2 separate regions of the Homo sapiens genome follow, and region 2 is linked to region 1. Evidence: fine-mapped expression QTL. A gene starts in region 1. The other region holds a variant in brackets. All regions are shown on one strand. Distances are from middle to middle. Region 1 holds the start of NEURL1 (neuralized E3 ubiquitin protein ligase 1). Region 2 overlaps NEURL1 (neuralized E3 ubiquitin protein ligase 1).

What was found. PIP is the estimated chance that this variant, and not a neighbour inherited with it, causes the effect. A credible set is the group of variants that fine-mapping cannot tell apart.
Region 2: its variant is the best candidate, but not a certain one, in a credible set for the expression of NEURL1 in subcutaneous fat (GTEx, PIP 0.53).

What each region holds. Positions count from the first base shown.
Region 1 is chr10:103,489,629-103,497,951 of GRCh38, reverse strand. It overlaps NEURL1 (neuralized E3 ubiquitin protein ligase 1), which reads right to left and starts at 4,247. Exons shown (of 6, transcript NM_004210.5): 1 at 3,480-4,247. The coding sequence starts at 3,564. It overlaps NEURL1-AS1 (NEURL1 antisense RNA 1), which reads left to right. Exons shown (of 4, transcript NR_120675.1): 3 at 3,217-3,391. RefSeq lists silencers at 3,569-3,668, 3,749-3,878, 3,889-4,038, 7,268-7,337 and an enhancer at 3,353-3,902.
Region 2 is chr10:103,569,521-103,577,843 of GRCh38, reverse strand. It overlaps NEURL1 (neuralized E3 ubiquitin protein ligase 1), which reads right to left. Exons shown (of 6, transcript NM_004210.5): 2 at 6,731-6,972; 3 at 6,022-6,343. Among named protein-coding and RNA genes, the nearest start is that of NEURL1-AS1, 56 kb to the right of the region's middle. RefSeq lists an enhancer at 8,045-8,323. The variant A/G (reference allele first, on the strand shown) is at 3,749.

The DNA.
Region 1 (8,323 bases):
CAGTTCCTGCAGTTCCCTCCATGTCCAGCTCAGATCCTCCCCTGATACCCCTTGTCTGACCTCTGCCCACATATCTGGGTTTCGACAGTACAACCAAGCAAACACTTGATTCCATTCACTCCCTCATCCATGCCTTTTGAGTAGATCTCCAGCCTGGGAAAGCCCAGGGGTGTCTTATCTCTGAGCTGGGCACATGGGAGCTCCTCGGGCACTGCCTGTTGGTTCTAAGCCCAGAGCTACACCGTGGACCTCTCCCCTGAACACTCCTAGACCAACGCTGTTCAGAACCCAGTGGGAATCACCAGCAGCAGAGTGGGGTCAGTGTGTTCCCAGGAAGAAGACCAAAGTCTATCACCCGAGAGGCGATGGTGGGGTCCCATGTCCCATGTCATGTCAGCCTAACAGCCAGACCAATCTTAGATCTCCAATCAGTCCCAGGATCCCCATTATACCAGGTCCCTTCCAGTTGTTTTAATTAAAATGGTGAGGAATCAAGAGACTGAAATTATGTAAGGAGAGAAAAAAATCAAGACAGTCACTCCACCCCTACTCCCAGCAAATTTCTGGATGAGCACTGACAAGAATTAGAGATGAATTCAAGCTGAGTACAGACGCCATCCCAGCAGAACTCTGGCTAGGCAGTTAGCATCACAGCCTATCAGGTCAACACCAACACAATTAGAATGAACTTCTGGCTGACCACTGATATACCAGAGAAGACTCGTAGGTCAATGCTGATACATTTAGAAGAGAATTGGGAATAAACACTAAACAATTACAGAATAAAGGTGATGGCTCTATTAGGGTAGAAAGACGGGAAGAAGTCCTTAGAAGTCAAGCTGAGAAGGAGGATCAGTGGACCTTGGGTGAAGGACAGAGCCAACAACTGGCGGCCTTCATGGGTACCTTCTGTCCTTCATTTCAGGCTTAGTAGGGGCGGGATCAAAATTCCCATGGTCACCTACAGTGGTGTGTGGATGGGGCCCCCACTCCTGCCTTCTGCCAAAGACCCTAGCCACAGAGACCTCAGATCCCCACAATTCCAAATTTTAGATTAAAAAGATGCAATTAGTTGGGAGCTCTCTGGGTTTCCACAGAGTCAAGGATGGAGCAAGACCTTCTCAGGAAGATAGTCTGTGAATATTAAGGGCCAACTAACCCCTGCCCCCAGCTAACCCTTGCCCCCTGAAGGACAGGGCCAAGTTTTGCCACTTTAATTTGGGCAAATAATTATTCTTTTCCCTCATTATTCTCACTTGCAGAGAAGGTTGAGCTGAACGATATTCATAGGTTCATTAGGAATCTGTTTCCAATGCTCAGAAACAGTCTTCATACTTGCTAACACTGATAGCTTATTTCTGATTACAAAAATAATACTTCCTTATTATAGAAATTTTAGAAAAGAGCAAAATATAAAAAAGAAAAAATGCAATCCCATATGATCCTATACCCAGAGGAAATAATTGTTAACCCTTTGGAAACTTTACAAGCATTTTTGCTTGTTTTGTTTTTGTTGGGGTTTTTTGCATTCACACCACTTTTTAAACAAAATTGGGATCATACAGTCTTCACAACTTTGTATTCTGTCGTTATACTGTGAGCATTTTCCACAGTCATCAACTATTCTTCACAAATATAATTGTAATCACTGCATAGTACTCTACCAAGAATATATACCATGATTACTGAGCATTTAGGTTATCCACCTAGTATAAATAACACTGCCATGAACATCCTAGCCTAGTGCCATAAGTATATATTCCTGCATCTCCACTTCCTTAGTATCAATTCCTCAAGGTAGAATTACAAGGTCAACAAACTGATTTTTTTTTTTTTTTTAGCAAGACAGAGTCTCGCTCTGTCGCTCAGGCTGGAGTGCAGTGGAACGATCTCAGCTCACTGCAACTTCCATCTGCCAGATTCAAGGGATTCTCCTGCCTATCTGCCTCCCAAGTAGCTGGGATCATAGGCACGCACCACTATGCCCGGCTAATTTTTGTATTTTTAGTAGAGACAGTGTTTCGCCATGTTGGCCAGGCTGGTCTGGAACTCCTGACCTCAAGTGATCCACCTGCCTCAGCCTCCCAAAGTGCTCGGATTACAGGCGTGAGCCACCGCACCCTGCCAACAAATTGATATTTTTAAAGTATCTTGACATGTATTGCCATATTAATTTCCAGAAAGACACAACAAATCCACTGATTTTCCTGAGCCAAGTGAAAGCTGAAGTTCTGAAAGAGCTGGAGTATTAGAATGCAGGACAGTGGTCCTATCTCTCCTCCTCTTCCCTGGTCTTAAAAGTTAACTGTTCAGCAAAAGAAGGGACAGAATTCCAAGTCAAAAGATAGGGGTCTACAGCCTAGCACCTAGCGCCGAGGTCTGGCTGGCTTTGGGAACCTGAAGCAAGCCTTGGTTCTCCTCATCTGTAAAATGGGTATAGTGTGATTAGCTCTGCTCTGCTGACTACCCCAAGCAGTGTCCATGCTCACTGAAAATGTGTTTGAGAAAGTTCGATGCCTTGTGTTAAAGGGCACTATTGTTATCCTTCTCATAACCTGAGGAGCTTAGGAAGTGGGGTATTCTTTCTGAAAGCCCAAGGGCTTCCCTTCCTGGCTTTTAGCCATCATGCCCAGGACAAGTGCCACTGGTTCTGAGGTGACAGAAAAGCACCTTCCGGAAGGAATTTAGTAGGGTCTGAGGGCCCGGGAGGACCCAGCAGTGTCTTCCAAAGGTCAGAGACAGCATTGGAAGATCCAAGACAGGAATGGCAGGCTCCGAATGGGGAGACTGGGCCTAGGGCCACCCTGAGGGTGCTGAGTGGATCTGGGGAGGTGAAGAGCAAAGACATTCCTAGTAAATGTCCCTCTGTTTCAAGGCTCCCAGACCCTCTTTTCTAGGGCTCTGACTGGATATCTGGTCTTTGGGAAAACCAGAAATCAAACTAATTCAATGGATGCAAAAACCCAACGGCTGCAAAGGACCCCAGGAACCAGCAGCTCTGACCCTTTCTTCCAGGCTGCTGTAATCCTGTCCTGAATTTTTAAAACCCTCCCATTGGAAATGCAACTAGTGCTCCCAGCCTGGTCTCTCCAGCCCTAGGGCCGATGGAAAGGAGACCCATCGAGGTGCCTCCCTGGAGACACGGACGACCCAAGCTTCCCTCCTCACTCCCCACTCCCCTATCGACCTGGCAAACATCCTTTCCCATCTCTTCAGGCTCGCCTAAGACCATGGCCTGAGGGGACTCCAGTGACGTTCCCAGTGCCAGCAGACAGAACTGCGCAGACCCCGCGGGACGCCATCCTCCATCACCATCATCGCCGGCTGCCCTCCACCCCCAGCCCACTCCACGGCCAGAGGTGCATCTCCGGCCTCCAGACACGCACAACAGGTGGCGTCTGCCCGCCCTCCCCAACCACACCTCCCTGGCCCTCCACCTGCGCCCCAGTCCTCCAGCAGCGCTCGGCCGGGGAGCCTACCTTTGAGGTTCTGGGGGTGGCCCCGCGGCGCGCGGCTCGGGTTTCCTCGGGGCAGCGAGGGGATACTGGAGAAGTTGTTACCCATGGCATCCGGCCCCAGGAGGTTCGGCGCTCGCGGGTGGGGGCGAGGCCGGGCAGGCGCTGAGGTGCGGTGTGCGAGTGTGCGCGCGCGGGTGCGCGCCACCGGGGGAGGGCCCTGCTGGGGCTGCAGCCGGGGGCGGGCGGGCAGCTCCTCAGCTTCCTTTCTCTGGACTTCGCGGTCCTTGGCGGGTTCCGCCCGCCACGGGTGTCCTGGCGCAGGCTGGGCTACCTGCCTCCCATGCCCCGTGGCGGGAGCGGGGGCCACAAGCAGGGCCCTGGGCCGGGGCCGGGGACGCCCGGGGCTCCCCGCTTGCTCCCCGGGACGCTAGGGTTCCGGCTGGGGGTGGGCGGCGCGGCGGCTCCGGCGCGCTCCCCCGGGGCCATAGAGTCAGGGTCGCTGGCGTGGGCGTTCGGCGGCTCCGAGGCAGGCTCGGTTACCGCCCCGCGGAGACGGCCGCGGCGGCGATGTGCGTGGCTCCCTCCCGCCCGCGGGTCTGCGTGGAGCGGGGCTCGGCGGAGCGCGGGGCGTTCTGGGCGCTCCGACGCAGCTGGTGTCCCCCGACCGCCGCGGTCCCGCCCGCGCCGGGTCCCTCCTGCGACCGCCGCCCCCGCCCCCCGCCCCGGCAGTCTCCAGGATTCCCTCGCTCCGGTTGTTATGGTGACAGCTGCGCCGGTGAATGAGCGTCTTAGTGACACGCGCGCGCCCGCTAGGCCAGATGTGGCCCCGGGGCGCGCCGCGTTCCCGTAGCCGCAAGCTCTCGGCGGCGCGGGTCGGGGTAAGACATCAGGCGAGTATGGTGGCACCCGGGGCTGGCCTTATTCCCAGCACGGAAACATGGAACTTGCACTTGAAAACAAGGGGAGCAGGGCCGCGAGAACGCCGAGCTCCCCGGATGCGGGGGCGGGCGAGCCAGCACTAATGTTCGGTTTCCCTAGCTCCAGGTACCGGGCCTGGCGCAGAGTGGAGAGCCCAGGGAAACATGTAAATGAGCGAGCGGATGCTTGGATAAAGTAATTGAGATTAGAACCCCGGCACTTGACCCTCCGTTCTCAGCCAGGCTAGGGGCACTAGGGCAAGGGTTCAGAGCAGGAACCCCGGGCAGTCTCACTGATGCACAGATGCCACTGAGGGCCTTTGAATGCCCGCGGACCAGACTCACAAGCCTGGAGCTCTGGCCAAGCTGAGGGAACAGATCTCCGGGACAGATCATCAGAAGACCACCAGCTCTGAACTGAGTGGTTCTGTTAGCTATAACAAGGTGGGGGAGAGGAGCCTCTGCAGCCTATGGCAGTCAAAGAAGGCTTCCTGGAGGAAGGGGGTTTCAGCAAGGGCCCTGCTCATGTGGCTAGTGCCTTCCTGTAGCTCAACACTGCACCAAGAAGCCTTCAGGAAGGGAAACAGAAGTCATTCTTCTCCTTCCTGGACCCGGGGCATCTCTCCTGGTCTATCAGGGATGGAAGATGTTCCAAGGTTCCCCCCAGGGAATCAGACTTCCTGCTCCTCTAAGTCATCTCTAGCTCCCTGCTCTGGCTTCAGCAACTCAGATCCAGAGTCCAGTGAAGACATGGGTGGGCAGGGGGACATCTCATGTATCCTTTTCTGTAATAAAGGTTCTTCCCCCAAGTCTCCATTTGGCAGCTCCTCATTATCTAGGCACAATTCGTGTCCTGACATTCCCTGACTGCCCCAACTAAAGGACCCCCTCCACTGTCAGTCACTTTCCACAATATTCCATTTTATTTTCATCATAGCTTTTATATGGAACTTGTTTACAAGTAGCCTTTCCTCGTTTATCTTCTGCCTCCCTGCTAGAACATAAGCTCTGTGAGGGGAGAGCACAGGTCAGTCGTGTTCACCAGGGTGTCCTTACCCACTGGGGGAATGCCTGGCATGTGACAGATTCTCAGAAAATAATTGTGGAATGCATGCTTCCCACTGTGGGCCAGGAGGCTCCACTGAGATCCCTGGGGGCAGAGCCTCCTGAACCACCCTTTATTTTCCTCTCCTACTCTCCTCTCTCCATCCCCATTCCAGGCATTCTACCCTTAAATGTCTGGGACTCCAGGCAAGCTAGAAATATCTGTGACAGCCACTGTCTCTCTGGAATCTGGAGGGAAAGGCAGCCCCGAACCCGGCCTCCAGCCTCCCAGATGCCCAGGATCACGTGTGCAGGCAGCTGCAGATGGCCACAGCAGGTCAGGGATGGCTGTCTTATTTATGGGCAGTATCTTCCCAAGGCTCACTCCCAGCTAATGACTCATGCATCAGAAATCCACAGGCTCTTAATGGCAACACACTCACACATGTGCTAACACACCGCTACACTATCTCACACACTCACACCTATACAAGCACACACACTTATATTCCCCCTGAAATCTGCCGGAATGAAGTCACTGTGAGTGGCCACTAGAATCAGGCCTTTCACAAGTTAGAACAAATATGAGGACTCTGCATAGTTGAGACTCATCCTGCTAGAGTGTGTTTGAAGTACAAGGGCCTAGCTAGGATTTACAGACGGTGGCTCCAGGGAAGCCTGGTGTGGGCAGGGGAATGGGGGAGGGGATGAGGCCCCAAAGGTAGAGCACAGCAGGGATGTCTTGAACTGCTGACCTCAGGTGATCCACCTGCCTCGGACTCCCAAAGTACTGGGATTACAGGCATGAGCCACCGCGCCTGACAAAGGGATGTCACAGGCCCCACATGGCCTAGACCTGGGGCTATGGGCAAAGCAGGGGAGAGAGGAAGACGTCAAAGGGAAGGAGGGAAGTGAAGGCCAGAGGCGGATGCTCACCTGAGTCCAGAGGCAGCCCAGGTTCTGCAGTTCAGGGCAGCGTGATCCCAGGGAGTCCCAAAGGAAGGTGAGAGGCGTCAGGGACAAAGGCAGGGAACTGAGGGTTGAGGAGCTGATGGGAGTATCAATAGGGCTGGGATAGGATGAGGTAGCCAAGGCATCCCTGGCGCAAAATTGAAGAAGGCGCCAACTCTCAAGTTCATGCAGATACCAAGCTTGCACTTGCGCGAGCCTGGGAATTAGGTCCTCTTATATTTCACGCCCTAGGCCCCTCTCTACCTTCACCCTAGTACTTCAGGGAGCTCTGTACTGGAAGAGGGGACACCACTGTTAGAGTCAACTAGGTCTCTGGCCAGGAAGGGACCTAGAGGAGGTTGGTGTGGCTGCATAGGACTCAGAGAAGTTGAGCGTGGCCCTTCTGAGGAGTCCTGTGCCCCAGCAACTCCTCCCTGGCAGGGACTTAGGGTAGACCCAGCTCAGAGGGTTAAAGAAGGCCAGCAGTCTCCTTACCCCCAGACCTTGGGCAGAACTCAGAGGCCTTCCTGCCATCCTTCCCCAAGGCAGCTCATAGGGGTGGGGTGCCTGGGTGGTGGCTCTGATCCAGAAGACCCTTCCCAGACCCATCCTGGAAGGGAAGAGGAAGAAGGAAACTGCCAGGGAGACTGGGGCTGATGAAGTCACTGTTTTGATGGCTTCAGGGGAAGCTATTAATACCCACAAGGTGATGCTCCAGCACCAGTCACCGTGGCAACACCCACACACCCAGCAGTGCAGATTCTGCGGGCAGTGCCTGAGGGGGTGGGTGTCAGTGCACACGTGTGCACTTTCGCGAACACCTGTGTCCTTGTATGTGCATGCGTAGGTGTTGTGAGTGCACACACAGGCATGCAGGAGAGGGAGGCCCCAGGCAGGGACCTGAGGAAGCTTCCTTCAACAGCAGCTCCACTCCCACCTTCCCTTCCTTCCCTGTTGCTCTCTTCTTGCTGATTTCTCTTTTTTTTTTTTTTATACAGAGTCTTGCCCAGTGGGAGCACAGTGGCACGATCTCAGCTCACTGCAATCTTGCAACCTCCACCTTCCAGGTTCAAGCAATTCTCCAACCTCAGCTTCCCGAGTAGCTGGGACTACAGGCACACACCATCATGTCCAGCTAATTTTTTTTCCTTCTTTTTTTTTTTTTTTTTTTGAGACGGAGTCTCGCTGTGTCACCCAGGCTGGAGTGCAGTGGCGCGATCTCAGCTCACTGCAAACTCCGCCCCCTGGGTTCACGCCATTCTCCTGCCTCAGCCTCCTGAGTAGCTGGGAATACAGGTGCCTGCCACTACGCCCGGCTAATTTTTTGCATATTTGGTGGAGATGGGGTTTCACCGTGTTAGCCAGGATGGTCTCAATCTCCTTACCTCGTGATCCACCCGCCTCGGCCTCCCAAAGTGCTGGGATTACAGGCATGAGCCACCGTGCCCAGCCAATTTTTGTATTTTTAATTGAGATGGGGTTTCACCGTGTTGGCCAGGTTGGTCCCTAACTCCTGACCTCAAGTGATCCGCCCGCCTCAGCCTCCCAAAGTGCTGGGATTACAGGAGTGAGCCACCGCACCTGGCCCTTGCTGGTTTCTTTCACTCTCTACCCCCTTCCCACCCCCTCTCGTCTTTCCCCCTGCCCTTCCTTCTCTGCTTCTTCCCACCCTGGTCACTTTCTCTCCTTGCAACCTCTGTTCTTCCCACCCTGGCTGTCCGCTCCTGCCTGGTTCGCCTCTCTCTACCTCCCTTCCTCTTTCTCTCTCTCCATAGCTTCCAGATCCATTCAAGTCTTGAAGAGTTACCGCGTTGATAAAATAATAGCATATTTAACTGAGAGTCTACTCCCTTCCCTGAGCCTCTGGATACTGAGTTCAGAACCAACCAGAGTGATGACCTTTCCTCAGGCAGACAAAAGTGGGGCGCCTCTAGGCCAAGCTGGACTCCCCTG
Region 2 (8,323 bases), 80 kb before region 1:
GAACCAGACAAAGCCCTCGGGAGCCTCCGGGGAACTATAAGGCAGGCAGACCGACCTTCCCCACTGAATCTGGCATCCTGGGCGCTGCACTGCCCCTCTTCCTTGTACCAGCACTGCTGGGGCCCTGGTGGCCTATCTGTGCCCAACATGTGCAGTTGATCCTTGATGCCTTGAGCTCTTGTAAGCTCGACTCTGGAAGGCACAGGAGGGCCACTGTCCCCGCTCTTGTCGGGTATCCAGACCTAATAGGGAGATCAGATGGACTCACATCTAGAGAAGCTGGAAGGTAATGTAGCCCAAGCTCCTGGGTTCAAATCCCAGCTCCACCAACTGCCAGCTGTGTGACCTTGGGCAGGTTATCAGACCTCTCTCAGCCTCTGTTCCTTATCTACAAAATGGGCACAATAATACCTTCCTTTATATACAAAGAGGATATATGCTGGATCTTTAAAGAGCAGGACAATACATGACTCAAAGCTGCTTATACCACTTAGGTCTCCAAGTGCTTCCGATGGTCAGGAGGAGGAAGGGTCATTTTGAATGAGGGAGGTCTGGGAAAGCTTCCTAATGGAGGGGAGGGTTTGGTGTGGGGCACTGATATAGCTGGCAGAATTTGGGGTAAGCAGAAAGGAAGCACCAGAAAACCCTCTGAAGCAGAAGGAAAAGCAAGATTTTTTTCTTAATCAAAAAGAAATGAAAATCATCAAAGAGGAAGAAATCATGATCGGCAGCCTCAGCTGTTTCCCCCAGCCCAACAGCTGGCTCAGGCTCCTTAAACTAATATTTGCCTCTTGGCCCCTAGCAGCCACAGCTGAGGGTAAATATTGGTTTAGCCTGGGAAGCAGAAGGCCCAGATGGCAGTGTGGTCCTCGGCTGGGGATCACTCATGCTCAGCACCTCCAAGCTGAGGCACACCCTGGATAGGGGACCTGACCTAGGCCCCTATCTCCAGGGGGCCTGGAGAACCCACCCAGCAGCACATGACCCTTGGAAGCCCATCCTGAGAGTCTCCATACAGCTCTCTCCTCAGTAGGCAGGCGTGGGTCTTTTACCAAGACCTGGGAACCTGTGCATGGCAAGGGATGGAATAGAATGCATAAGCCCTCGGGAGCCCCCACCTCATCCCCTCCTAGAACCCTCCCGGACCCAGCCCCACCATTTAGATGTGTTGATAGCCTCCTCCCTCTGACCTTACTCCCAGATCAGCCTGAGAGATCTGGGTTCCAGGCCTGGCCTGGCTGATGAGCAGCTGGGAGAGTTTGGGCAGGCCTCTCCCCATCTCTGGGTCTCATACTTCTCCACTGTCAACCAGCCAGTCCCTCTTACTGAACAACTTGACAGCACAAAAGCTGCTGGAAGCTTTCAGCTCTCATGGCTCTCTCCCCTGTGATGCATACACATACCCACACCTGTGCACACCCCTCACCTCCACAAGTCACCCACTACCTTTCTACCTCATTCCTTCCCCTCCTGGATCTGCTCCCCTACTGACCGCCAATTCCCCACCTCTGCACCTGTGGACACCCCCCTGTCTGACCTAAATTGTTCCTCAACCAATCCATTCTTTTCACCTCACTTAGTTCCTGACTTAAAACTTGTCTCCTACAGGAAGTCCTCCTGGATTGCTCTCTAGCTGCACTCCCCTCCCACACATACACACAGTTTTACTCTTCAGGTCACACTTGATTGCAGAATTGAACTTGGGCCACCTTGCATCAGTTATATGATGTGTCCCCCAGGGAAAACATTATTCCAGGAGAGGGGCTGGGTTTTTGATTCTTCTGTCTCCCACCTGCCCCCGCTTAGTGCCTAGGCAGTGGTAGGCACCAAGGGATGCTCTGGAGCACCCTGTAAGTGGGCTCTTGGCCCGCCAGCCAAGTCCTGCTGGGACTCACAGCTGCTCTTCCTGAATTGACATTTCTGAGAGGAGCAAGGAGACCTTGAGATACTGGGATAGGAGCTTCTTTTTCCATGTATTAATCACCCCATAAAACCTGTGTTTATTTAGTTGCTGGCGGGTCCTTCTCCCTGGAGGAAGGAAGCTGTTATTCTTGACGATACCAGCCTGGGCTTGGGCCAGGGCGCCCCAAAGAAAGAGGTGATCTGCAGAACTCCAGCATAACAGGGAGGAGGGCCTGCTGGGGCTGTGGCATGGGCACCATAACAGGGAGGAGGGCCTGCTGGGGCCATGGCATGGGCACCATTGTGGGCTTGGATTCTGGCCAGGGCAGGGAGGACCGTCCACTGGGGAGAGACACCAGCCCCTGCCTCCACTCTGTCTGGGGACACAACCCATCCATGGCCTGACCTGCTTACCTACTATGTGCCAGCTACCCTGGGAAGCCTCTGGTCTAAGGAACAAACACAGAGCAGGTAAGATTGGGAGGGCTTTGACCACAGGCTTCAGACAAAGGGGGCAGGGGCAGGCCTGGCAGAAAATCCCCAAAGATCAGACATTGGTTTGGGGGACAGTCACCCCAGGAAAGACTGGCCCAGCCTCAGAGCCACCAAGATGGACAGCGACTTTCTTCAGAAGAGAGACAGCAGCGGGGAGAAGGACACCAAGACCAGGGAAAGCAAGAAGGGTGAGAGGATCTAGGTCAAGGGAGAGAGAAAAGCCCAGAAAGATACAGGTGCAGTAAAGGTGCAGGTGATGGAGAGAGGGAGGGGCGGGAAGTGGGGCGGAGAGGAAAGAGAAGGCAGGGAAGGAAGCTGATCCTGAGGCTACCTGGGGTAGAGGGGAGTATCTCAGAGGACAGGCAGTGAACGAAGGTGGAGAGATCACGCCCACCTCAGGAGATCTCTGGATGAATCTCTGTGTCTCCCTCTCTCTCTTTACCAAAAAAAAAAAAAATTCAGGAAGAATAAATGAAGGGATATCTCAATCTGCCAATTGAATTTAGGGGCCATAATCAGTGTTTGAAAATACCCAGGGATTATGGTGATTTACGGCTGGGACGGAATCCGCTGGGGCCTTAGCCTTATCGGGTGTGCAGAGAGGAGCCTGTCAGGAACTCCAAATGCAACTGAAAACACTGCGTGCAAACCCATTTATAGTCACAGGGGGGATGGGGCTGGACCAGGTCAGGCCACCTGGGCTCTGGCCCAGGATGGGCCCTTCAGATTATTCTCCAAGCCCTCCTCAGCCCCTGAGGGTGGGAAGCCCGTCTGTCGTGTTCCACTTCATTCCCATGTGCCAGGGCCCTCCTGGAACTTGTAGGCCCAGCCCAAGTCTTCTCTTCCAAGAAGCCCTCCTGGCCTCCATCCTCCCCCACTGACCTCAGCCTCCTCTGACTTCCTGCCTCCTTTTATGTTTAAACCAGCTGGAGGGTAATGGGAAAGGTGTTGCTTTTGGCATCAGAACACCCAGTTCAAGTCCCAGCTCTGCCACATCCCTACATGGGCAAGCCAGGCCTTGCGTGGGCCTCAGTTATCTCCCTGCCAAATGGGGATAAAAAACACTCCCTGTGGGGCCTGCTTCAGAGGGGTTAAATGAGATAACTGGATAGAAACCATCTCGGCAGATGGAAGGCATCCCATGACCACAGCGGTTAGTGATTTACTGGCTTCTCTTGGGTTGTGCCCTGAGCGCTTGCATCGTCTGGAGTGTTTGCTTCATCTCCCTAACTTCCCAATGAGCCTGGGTTATCTGTGGGCAGGGCTGGGTTGCCCTTGGCCCCCACCCACCTGCCGTTTTCTTCATCTAACAACGCATCTGCCCTCCCATTCGTCCCCCACCCTGCCCCTG[A/G]CTACTCTCCCCTACCTACCCTGCAAATATTCCTCCACGTCCTCTGCAGGTCAGGCAGAAGCCTCCACTCTGGAGAGCAGCCCGACTGAGTGAGACGTGGATTCTTCCCCATCTTGCAGGGAAGTGGACGTATGGACGGACCAAGGCTCTGCGATGCTCAGTACTGAGAGAAGCACCAGCACCACTTGGTGGCACACAAAGATGGAGAGAAGAATTCCGCCCAGGAAGGTTTCAGGGAGGGAGGGGGCTTTGGGACTGGCCTTGAAGCCAGAGTGGGGACTGTGAGGGAGGCCACTTTTTGCTTAGGGAAAAGCAAGAATGTTGCCCCACTGCCCTCACCTGCCCACCCCTCAACAAGACTGTGGCTTTCTCAGGAGCAGAGACTTTGTCTTCCACCATGTGGTTAAGTCCTGGGCTAAGTCAAAGCCTTCACAACCATTATACAGGTGGGAAGCCTGAGGCTCAGGCAGAAGTGGTCAGGTTAGAGCTCAAACTCAAGCGCTGGGACTCCAGTGCCTTGAAGTGTGGGGCCCTGAGGATACCAGAGCAGCACCAAGGCATTCACTTGAGCCCTGAGTGAAGAACTGTCCTCCCCAGAATGGGTGGGGACAAATGACAGCCACTGACCCCCTACTGTGCATCAGCTGCTCCTCAAAGAACCCCGAGAAAGCATTTAGCCCCACGTTACAGATGAAGAAACTGAGGCCCCACAACTAGTACAGCGTGAGGCTAGGATCTGCCGGTCTCTGTAGCTCAGGGACATGAACGCTGCCCTTTCTGCCCCCGGCTGCAGGCACACCCCTTTTACAGAGAAAATGCAAAGCACCTGGGCTCCCTTCTTCAGTCGCTGAGACCCAGAACTGCCCAGTTCCAGGCTCTTAACATGTCATTGTGAGTGCAGAAACACTTTTGTTGAGGTGAAAAACAGAAAGTTCCCAAACTACTAGCTAATAAAAACAGCTTCCTGATGTTTGGAACTCAACAAACAGGCTTCTGACTCATTTCTTTGTTTTTACTATCACTGACTTTTTGCTCAAAAGTGTTGTGGACAGAAGAACTTCACTGTTTCTAGGCTCTGAAGTCAGAAAGGGAAAAAAAAAAAAGGTTTTCAACCACCTTCATGGCCTCTTTCTCTGCAGGGAGAGGCGGGTAGAGATGGGAGACGAAGGAAAAAGTGTTGCTTGAGCATATACTTGGTACCCGAGACTGTGCTGGGCACTTTACTCACAGCCTCCCTGATGGAACTTAATCTTCCCACCAACCCATTTCACAGCTGAGGAAGCTGAGGCTTGCATAGCCTCTGCCTGGAGACAAAGCCAGTTTGCCGATGGCCTGATTTGTACCCAGAGTCTATGTGTGCGCACATGCACTTGAGTGCCTGTGCACAAGGAGAGCCAGGTGGGAAGGATCCTGGGCTGGGAGTCAGGTGACCTGAGTTCTAGTCCTACCTTAACCACCAACTTACTGTGTGACCCTAGGAAGTCGGAGATTCTCCTGTCCTCTTCCGGCCCCAGTACTTGTGCCATTGCAGGGAAGCCTGGCCCCTGAGCATGCCAGGCTGCTTCCCGAGGCTCCTCCTCCTTGCTCTCTCACTGTCCTCAAAGAGCCTAACTTACGCTGGGGGCCAGGGAGCAGCCAAGAGTCTTAGCTCCCCCAGTGCCTTCTGCTCCTGGATCCTACCCTTTTATCCAACATCCCTGCAAAAGGCACTGGGGTGGGCTTGGAACCCCGTCTCCTGGAAGGCTGCAAAGCCCAGGGGCTGACAGCTGGCTTTAGAGCTGGAGACTCAGGGCTGGCTCTACCCCTCAACGGCCATGGCTCCTGGGACCATGATGTAATCTCCCTGGACTTGAGTTTCTGCCCAATGAAGGGGTCTCCCTCCCAGGGTTGCTATGAGAACAGGCAAGAATCAAGTGCCTTGCACATAGTAAGTGTTCTATGAACTGTGGTTGTGATGATTAATTTAATTACTTCCTGGGGTGGTGGTCTTTGAGGTCACCATTTATGATTGTGAAGGTTGCATACTGCCCAAGGCACCACCTGAGAGGCTGCAGAGAGCAGAAATCACACCCAGGTTCCACTGCAAAGCCACGGGCCTGGAGGAAAGGAGATCTCTGCAGTTCATGCCAAGGTTCCCAGGGCTGCCCCGGTTCCCCTTGGCACCAGTCAGAGAGGGGTCCCTACGCCTGATGGGATTGAACAGTGCCAGGCTGCAGTGCCCAGAGGCTGAGGGGTGTCCCCTGCACCAAGGGGCCGGAGGGGCAGGCACTCACCAAGCAGCTGGACGCCCCGCGTGAGGCCGTAGACGTCCACCAGGGCCCAGAGCGGGTCGGCCGTGCGGACCCCGCTGAAGAACAGCATAACAGCCGAGTCGTTGATGCGGTGGAAGACACGGCCCTTCTTGTCCACCCAGAATGCGATGATGTTGCCCTCATTGGCAAACTCCTCAGGCAGCGCCTTGGCCCAGAAGCCACTCTGGGACACCAGGTCGGGGCAGGCGTACTTGGGCAGCGAGTCAGGGTGGATGCGGGACGGGTCCTTGCTGGTGAAGCCCAGCCGCAGGGCCCCGCTCCAGCAGCACTGCTTCTTGGTGATCTGGGTGGCAGGGGGTGGCCTCAGCCCACCCTCTCCCACTTGGTCAATCAGACCAAGGGCAGCCTCCCTGCGGTGGACTCCCTGGAGCATCCCACAGCAGCCTGCCCACCATTCCAGCACAGTTCCCTCCCAGGAGCCCTCCCTGCTGGGAAGACAGCAAGGGGTTCCCACGGCCACCGCCCTCCCGGTTCCTTCCTTGTCACACAGGGAGGTTGAGAAAGGCATAAGGAAGAGGGAAGAGGGTCACCAGAGAGGAAAGGCAGGGGCAGGGTGTGGTGCTGGGGGTGGCAGCAGGCAGCGGCTGAGGGGCAGAGTCCAGAGGCCCAGGGGATGCCATGAGGGGAGCAGGAAGCAGGAGGCGGGGGCGGGGGCAGGGGGCAGGCCCACCTTCAGCCTGACTTGCTCGTAGATGAGGACCGGGCGGTTGCTGAAGGTGATGGCGTTGCAGAAGCTGGCCTGCCTCTTGACAGCCTTGTGGCTGAGGTCCATGAGGATCTGGGAGCCCTTGGTGTGCGGGTGGAAGAGCAGCGGCGTGGCTGGGAGCCCCCCGCTGGGCAGCACTGCCGGACAGTGCTTCTGCTTGTGGTGGCATCGGTGAGAAGTGACGGGGAAGGGGCCCCCGATAGAGTCTGCAAAGGAACAGGCCACGGTGTCAGAGAACTTGGCGGGTCCAAGAGCCAGACCAGAGTCCCCTAGGGAAGGGCAGAGGCTGGGCATGACCAGAAGTCACCCAGAGCCCAGTTCTTTCACCACTGCCGCCACCCCTTGCCACCATCCTTCTGCCACCATCTCTCACCATCTCCCACTCCACCATCTGCCACCATGCTCTACTGGTTCACTATCCACCACTTCTCACCTCGGCATTCTCCATCACCTCCCACCCCCACCCTCTCCCACCTCCTCTCCCCACTAGTATTTACCACCCTCTGCCTCTCACCACCTACCATGGTAGCACATCACCTTTACTACCACCCTCTACCACCACTCACTGGCACTCCACCATCCTTGGTTTGTTTATTTTATTCAATAAATATTTATGACATATCTGCTGAATACCAAGCTCTGTCCTGAGCACTGGAGACACAGACATGAAACATACATGGATCCTGTCCTCGGGGCTGTCACTAACTGGCTCTGTGACCTTGGGGAAGACAACACTTCCCTCTCTGGCACAATGGGCGGCCTCTACTCTGTGGCTCCAAGACAAGTCTCAGCAGCACAGGCAGCATTAATTAATACACAGCCTCAGGGGCTGGGGACTCTGGTGGGGCCCCCAAGATCCATGCCCAAGTAGAGCCCGCCCATCCTGTCATCGTGGGGAAACAGAACCGTGAAGAATGGAGAAGAGGGTGGAGCCGTAGAAAGCCACAAAATGTGACAGAGGCCTTCTGGGATGTTTCAAATTTTGGTCCTCCAAGGCAGGAATTTAATGATGCAAAGAGCTCGGCATTGGGCCTGCCTCCCCAGACCCTTTCACTCCCTAGAGGAGGAGGAGCAGCTTCCAGGAAGGAGATGGAAGACAGGAAGAAAAGGGAGAGGGAGAGGCCCAGCCCTCTGTGTTGGCTTTGGTCTGCATCCCTCTGTACCACTTTGCATCTCCAATCCCCGCTTCTCCAGAGGCCCCAGACAGCAGTCTCCGAAGCCCCAGGCCAGCCAGACACCCTGTGCATGAGCCCCCGGGTCTCTCTAGAGCAGCTTCCTGCCTGCCAGGCTCACTAGGAGAGGGTGGCATGAGGAGGAGTTCACCTTGTCCTCACCAAGGAGACAAGACGGGAATGGCTGGGCAGCGCAAGAGCTTTGGAAGCGGTCAGGCTATGAGGGCTGGAAATGCTCAGAAGAGCCCCAGACAGTCTGGAAAGGCTGCCTGGAAGAAGCTGAATGGCCTCTGGATAGTGCAGAGGAGGGGAAGCCATTTCAGGGAAGGGGACAGTTGGGGCAAAGGGCAGAGAGTGGCACTGGCTACAGGTGCCCTGCCTGGAA